Linked DNA regions of Homo sapiens: regions 2 and 3 are each linked to region 1. The links come from fine-mapping of genetic effects on gene expression. Tissue or cell type: whole blood. Region 1 holds a variant in brackets; each other region holds the start of a gene. All regions are shown on one strand. Distances are between the middles of the regions.

What was found. PIP is the estimated chance that this variant, and not a neighbour inherited with it, causes the effect.
Region 2: it holds the start of TPST1, and the variant in region 1 is fine-mapped to the expression of TPST1 in whole blood (TOPMed, PIP above 0.99).
Region 3: it holds the start of CRCP, and the variant in region 1 is fine-mapped to the expression of CRCP in whole blood (INTERVAL, PIP above 0.99).

What each region holds. Positions count from the first base shown.
Region 1 is chr7:66,082,789-66,090,890 of GRCh38, reverse strand. ASL (argininosuccinate lyase) reads right to left here. Exons shown (of 17, transcript NM_000048.4): 5 at 7,955-8,011; 6 at 7,717-7,814; 7 at 4,229-4,306; 8 at 4,070-4,147; 9 at 3,505-3,557; 10 at 3,100-3,162; 11 at 1,970-2,084; 12 at 1,716-1,800; 13 at 1,556-1,615; 14 at 1,196-1,279. Among named protein-coding and RNA genes, the nearest start is that of ASL, 11 kb to the right of the region's middle. RefSeq lists an enhancer at 3,960-4,587. The variant T/C (reference allele first, on the strand shown) is at 3,381.
Region 2 is chr7:66,200,903-66,209,004 of GRCh38, reverse strand. It overlaps TPST1 (tyrosylprotein sulfotransferase 1), which reads right to left and starts at 3,671. Exons shown (of 6, transcript NM_003596.4): 1 at 3,483-3,671. RefSeq lists silencers at 3,269-3,628, 3,779-4,048.
Region 3 is chr7:66,109,933-66,118,034 of GRCh38, reverse strand. CRCP (CGRP receptor component) reads right to left here and starts at 3,188. Exons shown (of 6, transcript NM_014478.5): 1 at 3,065-3,188. The coding sequence starts at 3,072. RefSeq lists silencers at 2,399-2,693, 4,122-4,312 and enhancers at 2,280-2,808, 3,346-3,475.

The sequences.
Region 1 (8,102 bases):
CCTGACCTCGAGTGATCTGCCCACCTTAGTCTCGCAAATTGATGGGATTACAGGCATGAGGCTCTGCACCCAGCCAAGAAACACTGATTTCAAGACATATCCTGAACTATTTAGGAATGAAATGATGTGATGATGGGAATTTGCTTCAAAATAAGGGGGTAAGGGAGTGGGAGAGAGCTGTGGGTAAAGACAGCTGGAGCCAGGATGTCCGTGAGTTGATTATCATTGAAGCTGGGTGTCGGTACATAGGGTTCATTATGCATTCTCTAGCTGTTATATACATAAATTTCCCATAATAATTGATTTTAAAAGAAATCAGCCAGGCAAAGTGGCTCATGCCTATAATCCCAGCACCTTGGGAGACCAAGGTGGGAGGATGGCTTGGGGCCAGGAATTTGAGACCAGCCTGGGAAACATAGGGAGACCCTGTCTCTACAAAAAATAAAAAAATTAGCCAGGCGTGGTGGCGCATGTTTGTAGTCCCAGCTACTCTGGAGACTGAGGTGGGAAGATCACTTGAGCCCAAGAGTTTGAGGCTGCAGTGAGCTACGACCGCACCACTGCACTCCAGCCTGGGCGACAGAGAGTGACCCTGTCTCTAAAAAATGTTTTTTAAAGATATTTAATTTAATTTAATTTAATTTATATATTTGTAGATGGAGTTTTACTCTGTGGTCCAGGCTGGAGTGCAGCGGCATGATCTTGGCTCACTACAACTTCCATCTCCTGGGTTCAAGCTATTCTTCTGCCTCCGCCTCCTGAGTAGCTGGGATTACAGGTGTGGGCCATCACGCCTGGCTAATTTTTGTATTTTTAGTAGAGACGTGGTTACGCCATGTTGGCCAGGCTGGTCTCAAACCCCTGACCTCAAGTGCTCCATCTGCCTCGGCCTCCCAAAGTGTGAGATTCCAGGCATGAGCCACTGCACCTGGCCTTTTGTTTAGATTTTCTTTTTTTAAAGAGTTCTGGTCAGGCCATTTGACAGGCCCCAGGCCCCCTGAGTCTCATCTACTTCCACTGCATGGCAGCAGTTTCTGTCCTTTCCCTGTTCCCCAGGAGCAGGAGCGAGCACACCTCTCCTTCCCTGCCCCAGGTCCTCCAGCCCCACCTCACCTCCTCCCAAGGCCACCCTCCCCGCATGCCCACCCCAGTGCCTGGGACCTAGGGGAGGAGAAGCAGGGGGGTGATGTCTTGCCTGCAGCGTAGAGATGACGCCAGTGGCCACCTGGAGCACGGCACTCATAGTGTCTGACACTTCAAACACAGCTTCCTTGTCCTCCTGGGAGGCACATGGCAGGAGGTGAGGGCCTAGCAGCCCCCTGGCACCCAGGGTCCCCACAGCCCCACCCCCCCACTGAGGCATCCCCACTGCCTTCCATGGGAAGAACACTCAATACCCCAACAAAGGAAGGGCAGAGAGTTCAAGGGCAGCCACGGATGGAGCTGTGTGCACAGGATGGGAGGATGTATGGCAATCCCGGGGTGGGGCCCTGCCTGAGTGTGCCAGAGCCCTGAGAACTGGCACGTACTAGCCAGGCCTCCCCCGGCCTCGCACCTGTAAGTCTTTGTTGTAGGTGCTGGGAAGTCCCTTGAGGGTCATCAGGAGCCCGGCACACTGCGGGAAGAGGGAGGCACAGGGGCTGGACCCGGGATCCTGCCCCCCTGGCCACCCACCATCAGCCCAGAGGCCCCGCCCCTCCCCCTGCCTTGCTCACCCGCCCAAACACACGCCCAGCCTTGCTCCGGATCAGCTCCAAACTGTCGGGGTTTTTCTTCTGGGGCATCAGGCTGCTTCCCGTGCTGGGGACAGAGGTGCTGGCGCTGAAGGGGCTGGACCCTTGGCTGGTCCAGCGCCGCAATGGCCAGGTCTGGCGGAGGGGTGGGACGGGGAGGAAGGCAGCCACGTCCGCGGGCGGCGGGGGATACAGAGGCCGGCAGCGGCAGATGGAGGTGGCAGTTCAGGGCTTACCTGTAGGCATCTGAGAGCTGCACGAAGCTGAATTCCTTGGTGCAGTAGAGGATGAGGTCCTCGGCCATCCTGCTGAGATGGGTCATGCACAGCGAAGCCCAGAACAGGAACTCGGCTGGGAGAAAAGGTTCCCAGTCACCAGGCCTCTCCCATCCCCACCCAGCCTGACCATACAGGGGGCAGGAGGAGGTTAGGCGGTGGGGGGACCCGGCTAAATTTTCATTTTTCGCAAAGATGGGGTCGTGCTATGTCGCCCAAGCTGTTCTGAAACTTGTGGGCTCAAGCAATCCTTCTGCTTTGGCCTCCCAAAGTGCTAGGATTACAAACGTAAGCCATTGCACCTAGCGTGTTTTTTGTTATTGTTGTTGTTTTAAATAAACCAGCTTTACTGAGTTATCACTCACATACAATTTATCCATTTATTTATTTATTTATTTATTGAGATGGAGTCTCGCTCCCAATGCACAGGCTGGAGTACAGTGGCACAATCTTGGCTCACTGCAACCTCTACCTCCCAGGTTCCAGCGAATCTCCTTCCTTAGCCTCCCGAGTAGCTGGGATTACAGGCATGCACCACCATGCCCAGCTAATTTTTGTGCTTTTAGTAGAGATGGGGTTTCACCATGTTGGCCAGGCTGGTCTTAAACTCCTGACCTCATGTGATCCACCTGCCTCGGACTCCCAAAGTGCTAGGATTACGGGCGTGAGCCACCATGCCTGGCCTATTTATTTTTATTTTATTTTATTTTATTTTTTGAGATGGAGTTTCGCTCTTGTTGCCCAGGCTGGAGTGCACTGGCGTGATCTTGGCTCACTGCAGCCTCCGCCTCCTGGGTTCAAGTGATTCTCTGGCCTCAGAACTCCTGAGTAGCTGGGATTACAGGCACCTGCCACCACACACCCAGCTAAATTTTGTATTCTTAGTAGAGATGGGGTTTCACCATGTTGGCCAGTGCTGGGCATGGTGAACCACCATGCCCCACCCACTTTACCCATTTAAGGTTTATACTTCAGTGTACAATATCACCACAACCAGCCTGTCCGTGGAGGTGTGGGAGGAAACTGGAGAGAAGCTGGGCTGAAGGACTAAAGTGAGGCACAGGGCAGGGGACTGGCTCCCCAGGACTCACCCACAAAGTCCCGCTCACTAGTGGCATCCATGCTGTTGAGAGTGATGGCCCCAAAGTTGAGTTCTGGGGGGGTGGGAGGAAGCAGGGCTAAGCTGGAGGACAGGGAGTGGCCCCCTCTCCCCCAACTAGGTTGCCCAGCCCCCTCCCCTGATCAGGGTGGGGCAACAGCTGGGGGGAGGGATCTTTTGCACAGTCCCAGGAGGGAGGCAGGAGCCCTGAGTCTCTCAGTACCAGGCATCCCTGCCATGAGTGACCCCTGAACTTGATGACCTCAGTGCCCA[T/C]AGGCAATGAATGAAGGTTTCACCAGGAGCCACAGGCCCCTGCCCTCTGGTTTCAGGTGTGTCTGCAGGTCTTGGCGGGTGCTGAGGGTGATTCTCCCTGGGGAGGAGGGGCAGGACGTCTCACCTGCTCGGAGCAGCTCTCGGTCCACACCCAGGGGATTGCCTGCAATGGCCCCACTGCAGGGACAGGGATTCATGGTGACCAGGGCTCCTGGCAGGCAGCCCTGACACACACACACACACACACACACACACACACACACACACGAACGCACACACAGAGAACCAAGTCCTGGTTGCCAGGGCAACCACCTGGCGCTTAGCCTCTTCCCTGGCCCAGTCTCCTTGGGTACAGAATACTTGTCCCCAAGTGTCCACAAAACACTTGTCCCCAAGCACTAAGTCACCCTGGGTGCAGGACACTTGTCTCCTGACACATGTTCCCACATGTCAGGCTGAGGGCAGCAGGCTGGGCTTGCCAGGAGCCTTGCTGGAGGGCTCTGGCCCTGCTCAGACACATTCAATGGCTTGGTCGTCACCTTAGCGAGAGCTGGGGCTCCATGCAGAGTCCCCCGCTGAGCAGATAAGGCGGTTTTCTGTCCCACTCTGCACTTCCCAGCTCTGTCAATCCCTAAGGCTATGCAGCAGCCACCCCCACCAGGCCCTCGGGGCACTGGAGCCTCACCCACCTCCCCAGGGGCAGGACATTGATCCGCTTCCGCACCTCCAGCAGCCGCTCAGAGTCTCGGGTCAGTGCCACGGCGTGGCTGTGGGAAGCCAGGGGCAGGAGGGTCAGGGCAGCCGGGGTCCTCCCCTCTAGCACAGCCCCTGCACCTCACCTGGCTCACCTCAGAATCCAGTGGCTCCAGCGGATGGGCTGGGCCCTCTGCAAATGGGTGTACCCCGGGAAGAGAACATCACGTTCCCTGTGGGAGAGGAGGAGCAGAAGCTCGGGTGGAGGCTCATGCAAGGCCTGCCTGTGACACTGGAACCCTGCAGGCCTGGGTCACCCCTGGAAAAAGTGTCACGCTGCAGCACTCCACCTGAATGAGGGATCTGGTGATCTCCCAGGGACAAATCAGTCTTAAGGGCAAAAGAAGCTGGAAGTGGGACCGTGTGAACCAAGGACTGGGCCTGAGCTGTGGGGCTTCCTGCAGTGAGGCTTTGCCAGAAACACCCCAAGTCCAGCCTCTGTCACTCAGCATCTCCGAGCAGGGGCCAGAATAGGGGAGGAGGCCCATGTTGGGTATGACTTGGCCGTGGGAGGTTTCGTTTGAGGACCCTAGAAATAGCTGGGGCTCATTCAAGGGCTGCTCTGAGCAGGTGAGATGCCCTGCACCTCATTCAAGTAGGCAGGGCAGAGGCAGAGGTGCTGTGAGTGATGGTCCTGTTTTCTTGTTGTTTTGTTTTGTTTTTATTTTTAGAGACAAGGTCTCGTTCTGTTGCCCAGACTGGAGTGCAGTGGCATGATCATAGCTCACTGCTGCCTCGATCTCCTGGGCTCAAGCGATCCTCCTGTCTCAGCCTCCTGAGTAGCTGGGACTAAAGGGACATGCCACCATGCCCAGCTAATTTTTAGTTTTTTGTAAAGATGGGGTCTTGTGGCCAGGCGCGGTAACTCACGCCTGTAATCCCAGCACTTTGGGAGGCCGAGGCGGGCAGATCACAAGGTCAGGAGATCGAGACCATCCTGGCTAACACGGTGAAACCCCATCTATACTAAAAATACAAAAAATTAGCCGGGCGTAGTGGTGGGCGCCTGTAGTTCCAGCTACTCAGGAGGGCTGAGGCAGGAGAATGGCATGAACCCAGGAGGCAGAGCTTGCAGTGAGTTGAGATTGCACCATTGCACTTCAGCCTGGGCGACAGAGCGAGACTCCGTCTCAAAAAAAAAAAAAAAGATGGGGTCTTGCTATGTTGCCCAGAGTGGTCTGAAACTCCTGGTTTCAGGCAGTCCTCCTGCCTTGGCCTCCCAAAGGGCTGGGATTACAGATATGAGCCACCATACCTGGCCTGTTTTTTTGTTGTTGTTGTTTTTGAGAAAGAGTTTCGCTCTTGTTGCCCAGGCTGGAATGCAGTGGCGTGATCTCGGCTCACTACAACCTCCACCTCCCAGGTCCAAGAGATTCTCCTGCCTCCCAAGTAGCTGGGACTACAGGTGCCCACCATCACACCCAGCTAATTTTGTGTATTTTTAGTAGAGATGGGGTTTCACCATGTTGGCCAGGCTGGTCTCGAACTCTTGACCTCAGGTGATTCACCCGCCTCAGCCTTCCAAAGTGCTGGGATTACAGGCGTGAGCCACAGCACCTGGCCTGTTGTTTTAAATAAACCAGCTTTACTGAGATATCATTCACAATTTACTCATTTAAAGTTTACACTTTACTGTACAACCATCACCACAACCAATTTTAGAACATTTTCATCACCCCATGAAGAAATTCTGTACTCAAGGCCAGGCACGGTGGCTCAAGTCTTTAATCCCAGCACTTTGGGAGGCCAAGAGGGAAGGATCACTTAAGGCCGGGAGTTTGAGACCAGCCTGAGCCACATAGTGAGACCCTGTTTCTACAAAAAATTTAAAGAATTCGCGGCTGGGCACGGTGGCTCACACCTGTAATCCCAGCACTTTGAGAGTCCGAGGTGGGTGGATCATGAGGTCGGGAGATTGAGACCATCCTGGCTAACATGGTGAAACCCCGTCTCTACTAAAAATACAAAAAATTAGCCGGGCGTGGTGGTGGGCACCTGTACTCCCAGCTACTCGGGAGGCTGAGGCAGGAGAATGGCGTGAACCTGGGAGGCAGAGGTTGCAGTGAGTGGAGATCACGCCACTGCACTCCAGCCTGGGCAACAGAGCAAGACTCTGTCTCACAGGTGGTGCACACCTGTGGTCCTAGCTACTCAGAAAGCTGAGGTGGGAGGATCATTTGAGTCCAGGAGTTTGAGACTGCAGTGAGCTATTACCAAGCCATTGCACTCCAGCCTAGGTGACAGAGCAGGATCTCATCTCTAAAGACAATTTAAAAAGTTAAAAATTTAAAAATTAAGCTGAGCGCAGTGGCTTATGGGTGTAATCCTAGCACTTTGGCAGGCCGACGCGGGCAGATCACCTGAGCTCAGGAGTTCAAGACCAGCCTGGTCAACATGGCAAAACCCATCTCTACTGAAAAAAATACAAAAATTAGCTGGACATGGTGGTGCACACCTGTAATCTCAGCTACTTGGGAGGCTGAGGCACTAGAATCACTTGAACCCAGGAGGCAGAGTTTGCAGTTAGCTCAGATAGCGCCACTACACTCCAGACTAGGTGACAGAGCAAAACCCTGTCTCAAAAAAAAAAAAACAACAACAAACAACAACAACAAAAAATTAAAGAAACCCTGAACTCAGTAGCAGACACTCCCTGTTCCTCCTAGCAGCCCCACACCACCTGCTGGGTGACAATTCTTGTGCCCTTGTTTTCCCCCAAGTCTGCACAACAGGGGTCACAGGGAGTTGAGGAAGAGGAGGGGTCTCTGACAACACATGGAGACTTCTCAGCAGCTCTTCGTCCAGGTCTGCAAGGAACAAATCCAGTCCCAAAGACACCAGGTCCCAGAAGCCAAAGCCTGAAATGAGGCCAGCAGGAGGCAGCCTTTGGCTCTGTCTTTTGCCAGATGGGCTGGATGGGGAGGCGAAGCTTAGGATGGGGGATCTGGGGGACAGGCAGTGTGGGGAGTGACTCTGGCTGCTCCAGGCACAGCCAAGCTAGCTGTGCTTGGCTTAGCTTCCTGCCTTCAAATCTGCAAATGGTGAGTTTTCTTTTTTTTTTTTCTTTTTTTTTGAGACAGGAGTCTCGCTCTGTAGCCCAGGCTGGAGTGCAATGGCGCGATCTCGGCTCATTGCAACCTCCTCCTCCCGGGTTCAAGCAGTTCTTCTGCCTCAGGCTCCCGAGTAGCTGGGATTACAGGCGCACACCACCACATTGCCTAATTTTTGTATTTTTAGTAGAGACAGAGTTTTCCCATGTTGGCCAGGCTGGTCTCGAACTCCTGACCTCAGGTGATCCACCCACCTCGGCCTCCCAAAGTGCTGAGATTACAGGCGTGAGCCACCGCACCCAGCCCCACGAAGGGTTAGTCTTCTCTGCCTGCTGAGCTAGACTGGCATGGGAGTATTGGGGCCTGCAGGAAATGGCCCACTCCTGGCTGCTCTGCCTCGATCCTGGAGTTCTGGGATGCCCCTGTCCCCCAGGGCCTGGCACCCCCACGCTGTTCACCCCTGCCCCCTAGGTCTCCTGTTCAGGCTTCCATCACACCTCTGTCTGCCCCCTGGGTGTCCCTGTAGGACTCACGCCTCTGCCCGATCCACCATGGTCCTAATGAGCTCCCAGAGGAGGCCCGAGAGCGTGGAGCAGGTCTGCCGCATCCACAGCCTGAGGTCTGTGACCACCTGTGCAAGGAGGAGATGGTGCTCAGGGAGGCCGATGTGTTGCTTCCCTGAGGAGCCAGGACCGCTGCAGAACTCTAACTGCCCCCTGGGCTCCTCAAGGTTGGGACAACACGGAGCAGGGGGTGGAGGGGCTAAAGCACCTGGTCATTCCGGCTCCGTCCCGTGTGCAGCTTCCCTGCCGTTGCACCAATGAGCTCCTGGAGGTGAAGGGAGACCCAGGGTCACGGTCTATACCCCCAGAGGAGTCAACCCAGGCAGGGCAGTTTTCCTCATCAGCCCTGCCAACCT
Region 2 (8,102 bases), 120 kb before region 1:
AGCCTAAGACACACTTTTCCATATGTTACCTTCTCTTCCAAACTGCCCATCTCCCCTTACCTTTCCTTGTCTAGATTCAGCTCTTCTGAAAACTTAGTTTACTGAGCACTATGTACTTGGCAATTTGCTAGAAACTGGAGATACAATGAGATATGACACAACTCTTTCTCTTAAAGGGTTCACTCTCAAGTCAGTGAGAAAAATAAGAAAACAGAACATTATAAATAGTAAAAATGGGCTGGGCACAGTGGCTCACGCCTGTAATCCCAGCACTTTGGGAGGCTGAGGCAGGCAGACTGCTTGAGGTCAGGAGTTTGAGACCAGCCTGTCCAACATGATGAAACCCTGTCTCTACTAAAAATACAAAAATTAGCTGGGTGTGGTGGCAGGCGCCTGTAATCCCAGCTACTCGGAAGGCTGAGGTACGAGAATCACTCAAACCCTGGAGGCAGAGGTTGCAGCGAACTAAGATGTTACCACTGCACTCCAGCCTGGGCAACAGACCAAGACTGTGTCACAAAAAAAAAACTAAAAATGGTATAAGTGGTAAAAATGGAGATGGAAGTATGTACAGGGTGCTGTGGAAACACAAAGAAAAGTCACCTAACCCAAACTAAGGAGGAGGGGTAGTCAGAAAAAGTCCTAGGTGCCTGTAGACAGAAACTTGTCCTCACTCTCACCAGGGTGATGCTCCCAGAGCACCCTGTAGTCATCTCTGTCACAGTCTTGATTTTACGGTAGTGAATGGTCTGTTTCTTTACTGCTTTTTTCTCTGGATCACAAAGGGCCCAGGAAGGGGATGCGCCCATGCTACAGAAGGCTTGGAAGGACTGGCTCAACATGCTAAGGGTTTGGGAGCTGATGAGAATTTTTAAAGAAAACAAGCAGCATGATCAGATTGATAGTTCAGAAATGGAACCAATTCCAGCAGCAACGTGGAGGATTAAGTAGACTACAGGACCCAGAGGTTCAGAAAAAGCATAACCAAGGTCTGAACCAGTCTTCTGGCAATGAAGAGAGAGAAAAAAAAAAGATGTTATGAAGAGAGGAAAAAAAAAGATCTGAGGTAGCAACAACAATAGGATCTATGCTAGACTTAATGTGAGGAGAAAAGAAGATGATTTTAAGGTTTCTAGAGTAAAGATCTTAAAATAGTAATGTTTGTATATGTGCTTAAAGGGGGCTATGGGTGGAGAGAAAGGGAAGGAAAAGGTAACCACATTTGAAGTAATCAAGCATCCACATACAGCTATGCAGTAGGCAGATGAAAATTAGAACCTGAGGTTCAAGAGAAACGGGGACTAAATAGACGTCTTTGAAAACCATAAATATATAGGTGCTATTTGAAGCCATGAAAGGAAGTGTAATCACACAAGGAAATTAGAGAAAAGAACAAAAATGAAACCCTAAGGAATGCCACGTTAATCTGAGAAGAATAAAAAAAGAAAAGGGAAGCATCAAGAAAAGCTTTGTTTTGGTCTGAATGGTGGAAACCTGAGGATGTATACCATCCAACAGAAAAAATAATAATATGGGAAGAGATCAAAGACGTTAGCTTTCGAAAGTAAGACCCCTCTTCTTCTGAGATCAGAGGAAAGGATATTAGAAATCAGGTACAGACAGGCACAGACAAAAATGACCTCTCCTTAAGAGTTCAGGGCTGATGCCCACCAATTTATTCTGTGAAGTTAAGTGGCAAAATAAGCAATGAAGAGAAGGCAAGAGTAGGACAAAGAGTCAGAGAAAAATGGTAAAGATCCATAAACAGCCATTTAGATTTTAGGACATAAGAGGAATCTAGAGGTTAAGTCAAAGGATCTCCAGGATCCAGAAGTGCAGAAACAGCACCCAGCAGTTTAGTTATATGATTTTTGCCAGTCTGCCTTGGGAGCCCAGGAGCAGAAAAAGCTGACTGATTCGTCCAGGCTTGAGACCATCAGAGCAAAGGTGGCAAGAATAGTACAGGGCCAATGACAATGCTTTTATCATTTTAAAAAGTCAAACGTATTTTACTCTTTTTTAAAAATCGACTCGCTATTTCCTCCAAGAGCGAGTGTTTGGAGAGGGGGAGGGAGAGGGGTGGATAATTCCTCTCTCACTCTTAGAGGACTTGTCAGAAGTTTCATTCTTAAGCATATTTGGTCTGTACAGCAGCTGATTCCAGGAAATCCAAATCCTGATTCCTCCTGGATCTTAAAAGATGAAAATTCATTGCAGCTCCCTGGACTATCCAGCTAATAGATAAACACGTACCACATTGCTTATATACTATGCCACTTTAGCTGGGAGGTAGGGGCTCTTTCTTTCCTAAAAAGAAAGTTACCCAAACACTGCAGATGGGGATGGAGAGGGGATGGGGAGTAATTACACCGCAAAGCCTGCTGACTAGCAGCCTAAGAATCCTTTACAAAGGCAATTAACATAAAACAATACATGGCACGGATAGCAGAATTGTTTCTTCTTAATGAATGCAGTAATTGACCATTTAATCGCTTTACTGGAGTTCACCAATTTCTCCTGCCATCTCCCATACCATTCTTCAGGCAGAGTCAAATCCCTGTGGACACTGGACTTCTTGCTACCATCATCTGGAAAGTACAAAACGCCTGGAAGGAGGAAGAGGCTAACATGCGTGACCACCCACCATGTGCCAGGCCTACTGTGTGCTAGACTCTGGGCAAGGGACTTTACATGTTATGGGGTGCAGCTCATGTAAGGACGAATGAAGATATTACACTATGGATCTGAGCCAGGCGCAGTGGCTCACGCCTGTAATCCCAGCACTTTGGAGGCCGAGGCAGAAGGATAGCTTGAGGTCAGGAGTTCGAAGCCAGCCTGGGCAACATAGAGACTCCATCTCTCAAAAAAAAAAAAAAAAAAAGCGATGAATCCGGCATTGCAGAGAGTGGGAAAGTGTCTGGAGGTTTAAGAGTAAGAGAAGGAAGAGGAGATTGCGATGGTGGGTGGTCAAAGTGAGGGGAGAAGAGGCGAGTTGGGAAAGGAAGGTGCTTAGGAGCAAAAGGGCAAGACCCAGGGACACCTGGAGCGGGGCGGGCGACTGCCATGCAGACAGGACTACGTACAACGGGTAGGATGATGGGGCGATGAGCTCAAGAAGCGCAGCCGGGGTAGACGTGGGGGCAAATGTCCGATCCCGGCGAGACGAGGGTCTCATCCCAGGGGACTGCGGGGCTAGGACGTGGTCCCAGGGCTGCGAGAAGGGAGAGAAAGGGCAGAGGGGAGAGGCCCCGGCGGCCGGGGCGAAGCCGAGCCCGGGAAATGCCGGCGATGGGGGAAGGGGCGTGGGAGCAGGGGCCGGACGGGCCAGACCCGGGGCTCCGCGCTCGGGGGCGGGGTTGGACAACCGGGAGGCACCGAGCAGAAGGCGACAAGGGGCCAAGGGATGCCAGGACGGGGCACAGGGCCGGGTGTGAGGAGACGAGAGGGGAGCGGAGCCGCAGCGAGCGCCGCGTCCCCCTTACCTGGGATGAGTGAGGAGCCGCCGCGCCGCCTGGACGGCATCCTGGCCTCAGCCGCTGGTCCCACCGCCTTCGGTGGGGGGCCACTCGGGAGCCCGCCCTCACCGCCAAGCGCCGGCAGCTGCCAGCCTGGACCGGCCCCGCAGAGCAGCGCCGTTCCGACCCGCAACCGAAGCCGCCTCAGCAGCGTCTCCCGCGGTCGCCAACTCAGCGACAACCGCCAGGGTCCGGGGAGGTGGCGGGATCACACATCTGCTACGATTGGCTGAGCGGACGATGTGTCGGCTGCTCTGATTCGTGAGTTCCGGCCGGCTGCCCACCGAAGGAGGCGCGGCTGGGAATGGAGCTGGGTCCGGCAGGCGCCGAGGGGCGGGGGTCTGACGTCGCAGCCGGCCAGCGCCCCCACAGCCCTTCCCGTGCGCGCTCCCGAGGGGGCTTCCCGGCAGCCGCAGGCCTGGCCGGGTGGTTGCCCTAGCAACAGCGCGCGTGGCCTGGCTGCAGGGGAGCCGCGGGCAGGTGGCGGTCCTCACCGCCCCCACCCCCAACGTGGGTGTCCCAGAGGCCTTCATCAGTGAAACCCTAGGACAGGAGAAGAAAATGAGCTTTTCCTGATAATTCCTCTCCTCTGCTTCAGAGCCCACCTTTGCCCGCTGCTGGCAGAGAAGCTGTCATCTCCTCGGGGAGATAACGCGCAAATGCAAATAACGAACTCAAACACTATTTCATCCCCACGAGAGTGTAGACGTGCAATAGTCCCTCCCAACCACAGAGGTGGGGGGCTGACGCCCTAAAAGAAAGAAATGAAAACTAGGGAGAAAAAGGCAAAGAAGCAAAAGAAAGGTGGGGAAAGGGCAGATATTTCACAAAATGATCCATTCATTTTACAGTTTCTTCCTACAGACACATCTACACCAGGTTCTGTCAAAGCAATTATTTCTACTCCAGTGACATGGATTAGAGAAGGCATGAGTGCAGAATCTAACAGCTGTATTCAAAATTGCTCTCTGCTAGGCCAGGTGGGGTGGCTCATGCCTCTAATCACAGCACTTTGGGAAGCCAAAGCTGGTGAATCACCTGAGGTCAGGAGTTCGAGACCAGCCTGGCCAACATAGTGAAACCCCGTCCCTGCTAAAAATACAAAAATTAGCCGGGCATGGTGGCGGACGCCTGTCGTCCCAGCTACTGGGGAGGCTGTGGCAGGAGAATTGCTTGAACCCGGGAAGGTAACTACCTTCCTTTGCACACAGTATAATATTTTCAAAGTTCATCCATGTTGTAGCATGTATCGGCACTTCATTCCTTGTTACGGCCGAATAATAGTCCATTATACAGACATCACCTTTTTTTTTTTTGAAGAGTCTCACTCTGTCTCCCAGGCTGGAGTGGAGTTATGTGATCTTGGCTCACTGCAACCTCCACCTCCTGGGCTCAAGTGATTCTCATGCCTCCGCCTCCAAAGTAGCTAGAATTACATGCATGTGCCACCATGCCTGGCTAATTTTTATATTTTTAGTAGAGACGGGGTTTCATCAAGTTGCCCAGGCTGATCTTGAACTCCTGGCCTCAAGTGATCTGCCTGCCTTGGCCTCCCAAAGTGCTGGGATTACAGGCATGGGCCACCGTGCCTGGCTGGACATCATCTTTTATTTATCCATTAATCCATTGATGGACATCTGTTTCTACTTTTTTGGCTATTATACATGATGCTGCTATGAACATTTGTGTAGAAGTTTTTGTGTGTGGCCGGGTGCAGTGGCTCACGCCTGTAATCCCAGCAGTTTGAGAGGCCGAGGTGGGCGGATCACAAGGTCAGGAGATCGAGACCATCCTGGTTAACACGGTGAAACCCCGTCTCTACTAAAAATACAAAAATTTAGCCAGGCATGGTGGCTGGCGCCTGTAGTCCCAGCTACTCGGGAGGCAGAGGCAGGAGAATGGCGTGAACCCGGGAGGTGGAGGTTGCAGTGAGCCAAGATTGTGCCACTGCACTCCAGCCTGGGCAACAGAGTGAGACTCCGTCTCAAAAAAAAAAAAAAAAAGAAGTTTTTGTGTGGACCTCATTTGATCTTTACAGCAACTGTCTAAGGTACATATGATATCTCCTTCTACAGATAATCAGCTGACTGGGTGTGGTGGCTCACGCCTGTAATCCCAGCAGTTTGGGAAACCCAGGCAGGAGGGTCCCGTGAGCCCAGGAGTTCTAGGCTGCAGTGAGCCATGATGGCACCACTGCACTCCAGCCTGGGTGACAGACTGAGACCTTGCCTCTCACCCAAAAAAAAAAATAATAATTATATATATGTGTGTGTGTGTGTGTGTTTGTGTGTATATGTGTGTGTGTGTATATATGTGTGTGGGTGTATACACACACACACACAGAGATAGATAAGAAAACTGACTATAAGATGGTAGACAGCAATTTTGTTGTTTGTTTGTTTTTGTTTTGAGATGGAGTTTCGCTCTTGTTGCCCAGGCTGGAGTGCAATGGTATGTATGACCTTGGCTCACTACAACCTCCGCCTCCCGAGTTCAAGTGATTCTTCAGCCTCAGCCTCCCCAGTAGCTGGGATTACAGGCGCCTGCCACCATGCCCAGCTAATTTTTTTGTAGTTTTATTAGAGACAGGGTTTTGCCATGTTGGCCGGGCTGGTCTCAAACTCCTGACCTCAGATGATCTGCCCGGCTCCACCTTCCAAAGTGACGGGATTACAGGTGTGAGCCACCGCGCCCACCTTTTGTTTTGTTTTTAGAGACAGGGTCTCACTATGTTGCCCAAGCTAGTCTCGAACTTCTGACCTCAAGCGATCCTCTAACCAGTCTTTTAATGTTAAGCAAGGGCCAAGTTACATTCTGCTTTCTACATTTCAGACCTCTTCAGGAAAAGGACTCACCATGGCCTCAGTAATACGGAAGCCACCACCGGTGCACAGCCCCTGCCAGGCTCTTTCCACAAAGTAGAGATGGAGATCTGAGATAACCTCCCACACTGCCCAGAAAATCCTTCCCCCACCTATAAGACCTAGAAAAAGAATTGAGTAGCCACATAGGGAGCTGACACTGGTCCTCCTAGCACGTATTAAACTGTGAGAACGAATTCTAGATGTGGGGAATTCAGTAAGAAGAAAGGACACGATCCTTTCAGTGAAACCTGTCATACGGCAGGATGTCTCACTGAGCAGGACAGCTTCAGGTGATCCGGGGACTACACTCTGAGGCAGAAGTAAGAAGCAGGGTCCAGCCTCTGACAGGGTCCAGCCTCTGAGGCAGAAGTAAGAAACAGCTTGATCTGAAGCAAAGCTCAGGGTTATTGAGAACAAGATGAACTTTTCCTGCTTTCTAAATCTGCCCCAACACATATAGTATATGTGCTAGAAGGAAAAAAAACTCCAAAATATACTCAAGTGAAAAGAACAAAGTTCAAAACAGTGTGTATAATATACCCATTTGTATATATTTAAAATACACATACACACACACTTGTTATTTTCAGAGGAAATATCAAGAAAGATGCACACATTAAATTGGTAACAGTGTTGTCTCTGGGAGGGAAACTGAAGGACTTGGGCACAGGAATAGGAAAGAGACTAATTCTTTGCTATGTACTCTTGGGCACCTTTAAAAATTATGTGCTATATGCTTGGATTACCTTTTTTTTTTTTTTTTCTTATTTTAATAGGCAGGGTCCCATTCTGTCACCCAGGCTGGAGTACAGTGGCATAGTCATAGCTCACTGCAGCCTCAAACGCCTGGGCTCAAGTGATCCTCCCACCTCAGCCTCCTGAGTAGCTAAGACTACGGGTGCACGCCACCCACTCCCTGCTAATTTTTTTTTTTTTAGACAGAGTCTCGCTCTGTTGCCCAGGCTGGTGTGCAGTGGCATGATATCGGCTGACTGCAACCTCTGCCTCCCAGGTTCAAGCAATTCTCCTGCATCAGCCTCTCGAGTAGCTGGGATTACAGGTGCCCACCACCACGCCCAGCTAATTTTTGTATTTTTAGTAGAGACAGGGTTTCACCATGTTGGCCAGGCTGGTCTCGAACTCCTGGCCTCATGTGATCTGCCCACCTTGGCCTCCCAAAGTGCTGGGATTTCAGGTGTAAGCCACCGTGCCCAGCCTTTTACTTTTTTTTTTTTTTTTTTTTTGGTAGAGATGGGATCTTGCTATGTTGCCCAAACTGGTCTTGAACTCCTGGGCTCAAGCAGTCCTCCAACGCTGGCCTCCCAAAGTGGTGGGATTATAGGCATGAGCCATCACGCCTGGCCTGGATTACCTATTTACAAGGAATGAATACATAACTTTTTTTTAAAGGAAAACTTGTTCCTGAAAAACTGTCCAAGACTGTATGCACATCTGATTCACACCACATTTCTATTCCTCTGTGTAATTTAATGAGCCTCATAGATTCTGAACACTCTTTCTGCGTTTCTATTTTCTCTCCCGGGCTTTACCTTTCCAGGTGATCAGCCCAGAATTAGATCACCTCACCAGAGAGCATCAGCCAGGTATGGTGGCTCACACCTGTAATGCCAGCACTTTGGGAGTCTGAGGAGGGCAGATCACTTGAGATCAGTAGTTCGAGACCAGCCTGGTCAACATGGTAAAACCCAATCTCTACTAAAAA
Region 3 (8,102 bases), 27 kb before region 1:
GTACTACAGCCTGGGTGACAGAGCAAGACTCCATCTCAAAAGCGAACTAAAAAAAGAACAATAAAAAGAAGAGAACAGGACGAGGGCGAGGAGGAAAGTATACCAGACAGAGGGTACCACAACGCAATGGTCCTCAGGAAGTGCTTAGAAGGTTAGAGGAGAAGGAAATACCTGTCAGTGGAAAGTGTGTGTCTGGGAGGTTGGGAGAGTGGCAAGTGGTAAGGCTGGGGAGTAGGTGAGGTTTTACAGGGTCTTGCAGGTCCTGGTAAGAGATGGAGATTTTCTCTAAGTACAATGGAAAGTCAATGAAGGGTTTTACCCAGGAGCGACATGTTCCAATCATTACTTAAGATCACTCCAGTTGCCATGTGGAGAACAGAATGGAGGCTGGGGAAGAGTGAACACTCAAAGGCTATTGCTTAATCCAGCCCAGAGGTGATGGACTACAAAGCTAACATTGGAGATGGTGAAAAGTAACTGCATTCAAAATATATTCTAGGGTGGAAACAACAGGACCACTGATGGACTGGATTTAGGGAGTGAAGAGAGAGGGCTAGATTTTTGGTCTATGCAATTGGATAGATGATGAGAAGAAGGTTAGAAACATACCTTTGAGAACCATCAGCACATAGATGGGTGAAATGACAGAGTGTGGAGAGAAAGGGTCCCAGGACTGAGCCCTAAGATACCACTCAACACTTAGACATCAAGCAAGAGAGGAACGGGACCCAGGGAAGGACACTGAAGTAGTCCTTGATGTAGGAGGAAATACGCAAAGGAACATACATCACAAGAAAAGGAAAGTTTCTAGAGTTTCTGTATTAACCACTGCTGAGAGATCAAGAAAGTTGAGGCCAGAAAATCAACCTCTGAATTTGACAAGATGGAGGGATCAGGTTTTTTTTTTTTTTTTTTTTGAGACAGTCTTGCCCTGTCACCTAGGCTGGAGTGCAGTGGCACAATTTGGTTCACTGCAACCCCTGCCTCCCGAGTTCAAGCGATTCTCCTGCCTCAGCCTCCTGAGTTACTGGGATTACAGGCGCCCACCACTACACCCAGTTAATTTTTGTATTTTTAGTAGAGAGGAGGTTATGCCATGTTGGCCAGGCTGGTCTCAAACTCCTGACCTCAGGGGATTCGCCCACTTCGGCCTCCTAAAGTGCTGCGATTATAGGCATGAGCCACCACGCCCCGCTGGTTCAGGTAATCTTAACAGTCATTCCCGTAGACCAGTGAGGATGAAAGCCCAACAGAATGGCTGAGAGAATGAGGGGCTAATCAGCACTTTCAAGAAGTTTTGTTGGGATGGGAAGCAGAAATGGAGTAAGAGGGGGACATGTATGTGGGGACGGAGGATTTTCTAAGATGAATTCTCTAAAGCAGGGTTGTATGCTCACAGGAAATGCTCTAGTAAAGAGGGAAAAATTAGTAATGATGGCTTGGACTAGAGTAAATTATATGAATAGTTTTTTAGGTTGCAGATGAAATCCCATCAGTGGGTTGCAAAATTAATTCAGTGGTTCAATTTTTTTTTTTTTTTTTTTTTAAGACAGAGCCTTACACTGTCACTCTGGCAGGAGTGTAGTGGCTCTATCTCAGCTCATTGCAGCCTCCTGGGATCAAGTGATCCTCCCATCTCAGCCTCGTAAGTAGCTGAGACTACAGGCATGAACCACCACACCCAGCTAACTTCTTAATTTTTTGCAGAGACAGGGTCTCCCTATGTTGCCCAGGCTGGTCTCCACCTCCCAGGTTCAAGTGATCCTTCTGCCTAAGCTTCCCAAAGTGCTGGGATTGCTGGTGTGAGCCACCACGGTTGGCCCCATTCATATTAATAAAAAATAGACAATATGAGAGTGTACGCCACACATTATTGTTTCATGAGCCTTTCATTTCAGTTACACAGACATATTGTGTTTAAAAAAAAATCGGAAGAGGCCAGGTGAAGTGGCTCACGCCTGCAATCCCAGGACTTTGGGAGTACAAAGCAGGAGGATCACTTGAGCTCAGGAGCTGGAGACCAGCCTGGGCTGTAGTGAGACCCTGCATCTACAAAACTTTTTTTAAAAAATTAGCGGTGAGTGATGGCGTGGGCCTGTAGTCCCAGCTACTGAAGAGGCTGAAGCAGGATTGCTTGAGTCCAGAAAGTGAGGCTGCAGTGAACCATGATTACACCCCGCCTGGGGGACAGAGCAAGACCCTGTTTCTTAAGAAAAAACAATTAATTAAAAATGTAAAAATGTGAAATGCCATAGTACATATAACCATTAAACATGAGGCAAAAGAACATAAAGGAAACTGTATCAAATAATCAGTTCAAAGAGAACACAAGATAGTAATACCTACAAATTAATATCAACCGTATAAAGCCCACATTCAGAGTAGATGCAAAATCTTCCATTTGCACCAGGCGCAACGAGCAAGCATGGAAAAGACCACGTGGAGTTAAACTGTCAGAAAATCTTTTACCCTCGCCTTGCACACACACCCACACACCCCCTGCTGTTTCTCTGGTCCCAGTCCTGGTTCACGTCCTTCCCTTCTCCACCCCAAAACCAGCCCCTTCCCTCACAGTGTTTACTGCTCCCATCAAATTCCGAGGGCAGCTCTTCCGAGGGCTCTCCAGGGGCCTACAGCTGCAAGCAGAGCTCTACCCGGCCCTGATTCGTCTCTCCTCCACCTACTTTCAGGGCGGACAGACTCAGGCCTTTATAGCCTTCTAAGTCCGGGGTCGGATACCAGACTGGGCTCCACCCCCGCACTGTGACCCAGAAACGCTGGTAAACGAATGAGAGAAGGAGGGGGCACATTGAAAGGCAGCCGGACACGGAAGTGCTCGGCCCCGCACCAGACACGGCGTGGAGGGGAAGCGAAGGTTCGGAAGGGCAAAGCGAGAGTCCCGTTCGTCCCCGTCACCACCCCGCGGCCCTCCCGGACAGGGCCGGCCCGCTGCCCTCACTCCCGTACGAGGGTCGCCCAGTCCCCACGGCTCTCGGCTCTCAGCTCTCAGCGGTCAAACCGTTGGGCTCCTCGGGCGAAAAGGGACGCGCCCGAGAAGACTTACACTTCCATGACGTCCCGCCTCGTCGCCCCTAGCTGCCAGCAGACAAAGAACCTCACACTTCACAGCTGTCTCCGCCGCCACCAACAGCGCCAAGGTGCCAGCTCCGCGCGCCAAGGTGCTCGCCGGGATCGCCGCGCTGCATGCCGGGAGCTTGGCGGACCCGGAACCTCGCGCTGCGCGTTCCCCTTTTTCGGGGGGCAGGGTGGGGGAGTGTCCCTGCATCCTTCCACCAGGCCGATTTAAGACTGCTAAGCGTTTGCGGACAGGATTATCTTGTGTTTTCTTTTCTTTTTTTCTTTAACCTTTTTTTTTTTTTGAGACGGAGTCTCGCTCTGTCGCCCAGGCTGGATCTCGGCTTACTGCAACCTCCGCCTCCTGGGTTCAAGCGATTCTCCTTCTGCCTCAGCCTCCCAAGTAGCTGGGACTACAGGCGCTTGCCACCAAGCCCGGCTAATTTTTTGTGTTTTTAGTAGAGACGGGGTTTCACCGTGTTAGCCAGGATGGTTTCAATCTCCTGACCTCGTGATCCGCCCGCCTCGGCCTCCCAAAGTCCTGGGATTACAGGCGTGAGGCACCGTGCCCAGCCTCTTTTTTTCTTTTTTGAGACAGAGTCTCGCTCTGTCACCCAGGCTGGAGTGCAGTGGCACGATCTCGGCTCACTGCAATCTCTGCCTCCCAGGTTCAAGCAATTCCCTGCCTCAGCCTCCCGAGTAGCTGGGATTACAGGCGCCCGCCATAACGCCTAGCTAATTTGTGTATTTTTTAGTAGAGACGGGGTTTCATCATCTTGGCCAGGCTAGTCTTGAACTCCTGACCTCGTGATCCACCCGCTTCGGCCTCCCAAAGTGTTGGGATTACAGGCGTGAGCCACCTCGCCGGGCTCTGTCTGTTTTCGTGGTCTAGGTTTTAACAAAGTATTAATCAGCTGAAGTTGTGAGACGTGATCGGGTTAGTGGGCCTTTGCATGTTAAAATCCCACCTCTCAGAGAGTAGTGAGGCTGGTGGCATCTGGGCTGCCAGAAACATTGCAGTTTATTTATTTATTTTTTAAGAGACAGGGTCTTGCTCTGTCGCCCAGGCTGGAATGCAGTGGTGCAATCAGAGCTCACTGCAGCCTTGAACTCCTGGGCTCAAGCAATCCTCCCACCCCAGCCTGCCAGAGTAGCTGGGACCACAGGTGCGCTCCGCTACACCTGGCTAATTTTCTTTTTTTCTTTTTCTTTTTCTTTTTTTTTTTTTTTGAGATCAGTCTCACTCTGTTGCCCAGGCTGGAGTGCAGTGTCGTGATCTCGGCTCATTGCAACCTCTGCCTCCTGGATTCAAGCAGTTCCCTGCCTCAGCCTCCCCAGTAGCTAGGATTACAGGTGCCCGCCATAATGCCCAGCTAATTTTTGTATTTTTTTAGTAGAGACGGGGTTTCACCATCTTGGCCAAGCTGGTCTTGAACTCCTGACCTTGTGATCCACCCTCATCAGCCTCCCAAAGTGTTGGGATTACAGGCGTGAGCCACTGCACCCAGCCACCTGGCTAATTTTCTAAAATAAAATTCTTTATTGTCCAAAGAGTCAGCTACAAAATTTTTTAATTTTTTTGTAGAGATGGGGGTCTCACTGTGTTGCCCAGGCTGGTCTTGAACTCCTCGCCTCAAGTGATCCTCCCACCTCCAACTCCCAAAGTGCTGGGATTACAGGTGTGAACCACCACAATAGCCTCTGTTGCCTACTTTGTAAATAATAAGGGTGTTAAATAATCCTTATAAAGTTCCTGGCACTTTATTAATTACTGTGGCAATACAACCATGACTCTCTATGAGGTACATTGCATTATTATTGACATTTTATAATTGAAGAAACTGAGGCAGACTTGGAGAGATTATGATTTACCAAAAGTCACTCATCTAGGAAGTTGTCCAGTGGGTATTGAACCCCAGCCAATCTGAACATATACAACAGATGCATTAACTAGAGACTGATGAGTGGATGAATAAAATGTGCTACATTTGTGCAATGGAAAACTACTTAAAAAGGAGGCTGGCCGGGCACGGTGGCTCACGCCTGTAATCCCAGCACTTTGGGAGGCCGAGGCGGGCAGATCACGATGTCAGGAGATCGAGACCATCCTGGCTAACAGGGTGAAACCCCGTCTCTACTAAAAATACAAAAAAAATTAGCCGGGCGTGGTGGTGGGCGCCTGTAGTCCCAGCTACTAGGGAGGCTGAGGCAGGAGAATGGCGTGAACCCAGAAGGCAGAGCTTGCAGTGAGCCAAGATCGTGCCACTGCACTCCAGCCTGGAAGACAGGGCAAGACTCTGTCTCAAAAATATAAAAATAAAAAGGAGGCCAGGCTTGATCTCAGCACTTTGGGGAGCAGAGGCAGGAGGATTTCTTGAGACAAGGAGTTCCAGAGCAGCCTGGGCAACATAGCTAGACCCCCTAACTACGAAAAGTTAGCCAGGTGTGGTGGTGAGCACCTCTAGTCCCAGCTACTGGGGAGGCTGAGGTAGGAGAATCGCTTGAGCCAGAAGGTAGAGGCTGCAGGGAACTATGATCACACCACTGCACTCCAGCCTACAGAGTGAGAGACCTTGTTGCAAAAAATATATATAGACAGACTGATAGATAAATGCTGCAAGATGGATAACCTCCCAAAACATGATGCTATTAATAAGTGAAAGAAGCCAGACACAAAATAATATATATTGCCTGGCCAGGTGGCTCACGCCTGTAATCCCAGCACTTTGGGTGGCTGAGGTGGGTGGATCATCTGAGATCAGGAGTTCAAGACCAGCCTGGCTAACATGGGGAAACCCTGTCTCTACCGAAAATACAAAAATCGCCAGGCGTGGTGGCTCACGCCTGTAATCCCAGCACTTTAGGAGACTGAGGCAGGCAGATCATGAGGTCAGTAGTTCGAGACCAGCCTAGCCAACATGGTGAAACCCCGTCTCTACTAAAAATACAAAAAGTAGCTGGGTGTGGTGGGGGGCACCTGTAATCCCAGCTACTCGGGAGACTGAGGCAGGAAAATTGCTTGAACCCAGGAGGCGGAGGTTGCAGTGAGCCGAGATCACGCCACTGCACTCCAGCCTGGGTGACAGAATGAGACTCCTTCTAGAAAAAAAAAAAAAAGAATACATATGGTATGATTCACTTTATATAGAATGTCCAAGAAGAGGCCAATCTATGGATACAGACAGAAGGCTAGGTTGGGGGCAAGGATGGGAAGTGATTGCTAATAAGTAGGGAGTTTCTCTTTGGGAAACAGAAATTGTCTAAAATTATTATAGATGGTGGTGGTGGTTGCACAACCCTGTGAATATACTGAAGACACTGAGTTGTATACTTTAAATGGCATATTGTACAGCATATTAATCCTATATTAATAAAGCTGTTAAACATTTTTTACTCTGCTGAGTGTGGTGGTCCACACCTGTAATCCCAGCACTTTGGAAGATGAAGGCAGGTGGATCGCTTGAGCCCAGTTTGAGACCAGCATGGGCAACATGGTGAAACCTCATCTTTACCAAAAAAATAGAAATTAACCAGCTTGATGGCTCGTGCCTGTAATCGTAGCTACTCAGGAGGCTGAGGCAGGAGCATCGTCTGAATCTGGGAGGCGGAGGTTGCAGATCACGCCACTGCACTCCAGCCTGGGTGACAGAGCAAGACTCCATCGCAAAATAACGACAACAAAAAAGTCATAAAATGCCACCCAGACCCAGCTGGCCTAGTTAGTGTGGAGAATTCCCTGTACCTTCGCTGAGGAGATTGGGCCCCACAAAGAAATGCTAAAGATGCCCCTTGTGTTATTCACTCAACAAGTATGTAGCCATGGCCCATCGGGGGCTGATGATACAAATGTGACTAACACACACCCTCTGCACTGGCTAGCTGACAGCCTAGTTGAGGAACCAGCTCTGGACATAAATAACCACAATGCATTGTGTTTCGACGCGATGGGCAGGGGAGGGAATGACTAATGAGGTGGAGAGGCGTCCCAAAGCCACGGGCCTTTGAAGTGGGTGAGGGAAAAGCACACGAGGCCGAGGGATTGGGTATGGGCTTCAGTGAAAAACAGCAGTGCCTCTGACAGCCCCCATGATAAAATGGCTCAGGTGTGACTTAGAGTAGGGAGTTAGCTGGGTGTTCGAATGATACCCGGTAGGCCAGGTGCGGTGGCTCATGCCTGTCATCCCATCATTTCGGGAGGCCAAGGCGGGTGGATCACTTGAGTCCAAGAGTTCAAGACCAGCCTGGCCAACATGGTGAAACCTCATCTCTACTGAAAATACAAAAATTAGCCGGGCATGGTGGCAGGCGCCTGTAATCCCAGCTACTCAGGAGACTGAGGTAGGAGAACCACTTGAGCCCGGGAAGCGGAGGTTGCAGTGAGCCGAGTAAACATTCTTTTTACTGTCTGCACCTCTGGTCCTGGATAGTCGCTGATCACCATGACAATTAAGGGTATGGACCTTAAGAAGAAAAGATTATCCTGGATTTTCTATGTGGTATCAACATAATCACATGGATCATTAAAAGCATAAAATCATTCTCACCTGATGTCAGAGCCCAAGGGAGGTGTGGCTAGGGAAGGGAAGAATGATCTGAGAGATGCAATATTCCTGCCTTTGAAGATGGAGGAAGGGGCCATGAGCCAAGGAATGTAGGTAACTGTAGAAGCTGGAAAAGGCAAGAAAACAGATTCTCCTGTGAAGCTTCCAGAAAGGACTGCAGCCCAGCTGGGTGCCACGGCTCACACCGGTAATCCCATCACTTTGGGAGCCCAAGGCAGGCGGATTACTTGAGGTCAGGAGTTTGAGATCAGCCTAGCCAACATGGTGAAACACTGTCTCTACTAAAAATTTAAAAAATTAGCTGGGTGTGGTGGCAGGCGCCTGTAATCCCAGCAACTTGGGAGGCTGAGGTAGGAGAATTGCTTGAACCCAGGAGGGGTAGGTTGCAGTGAGCCAAGATCGTGCACTCCAGGCTGGGCAACAGAGCGAGACTCTGACTCAAAAAAAAAGGACTGCAGCCCTACC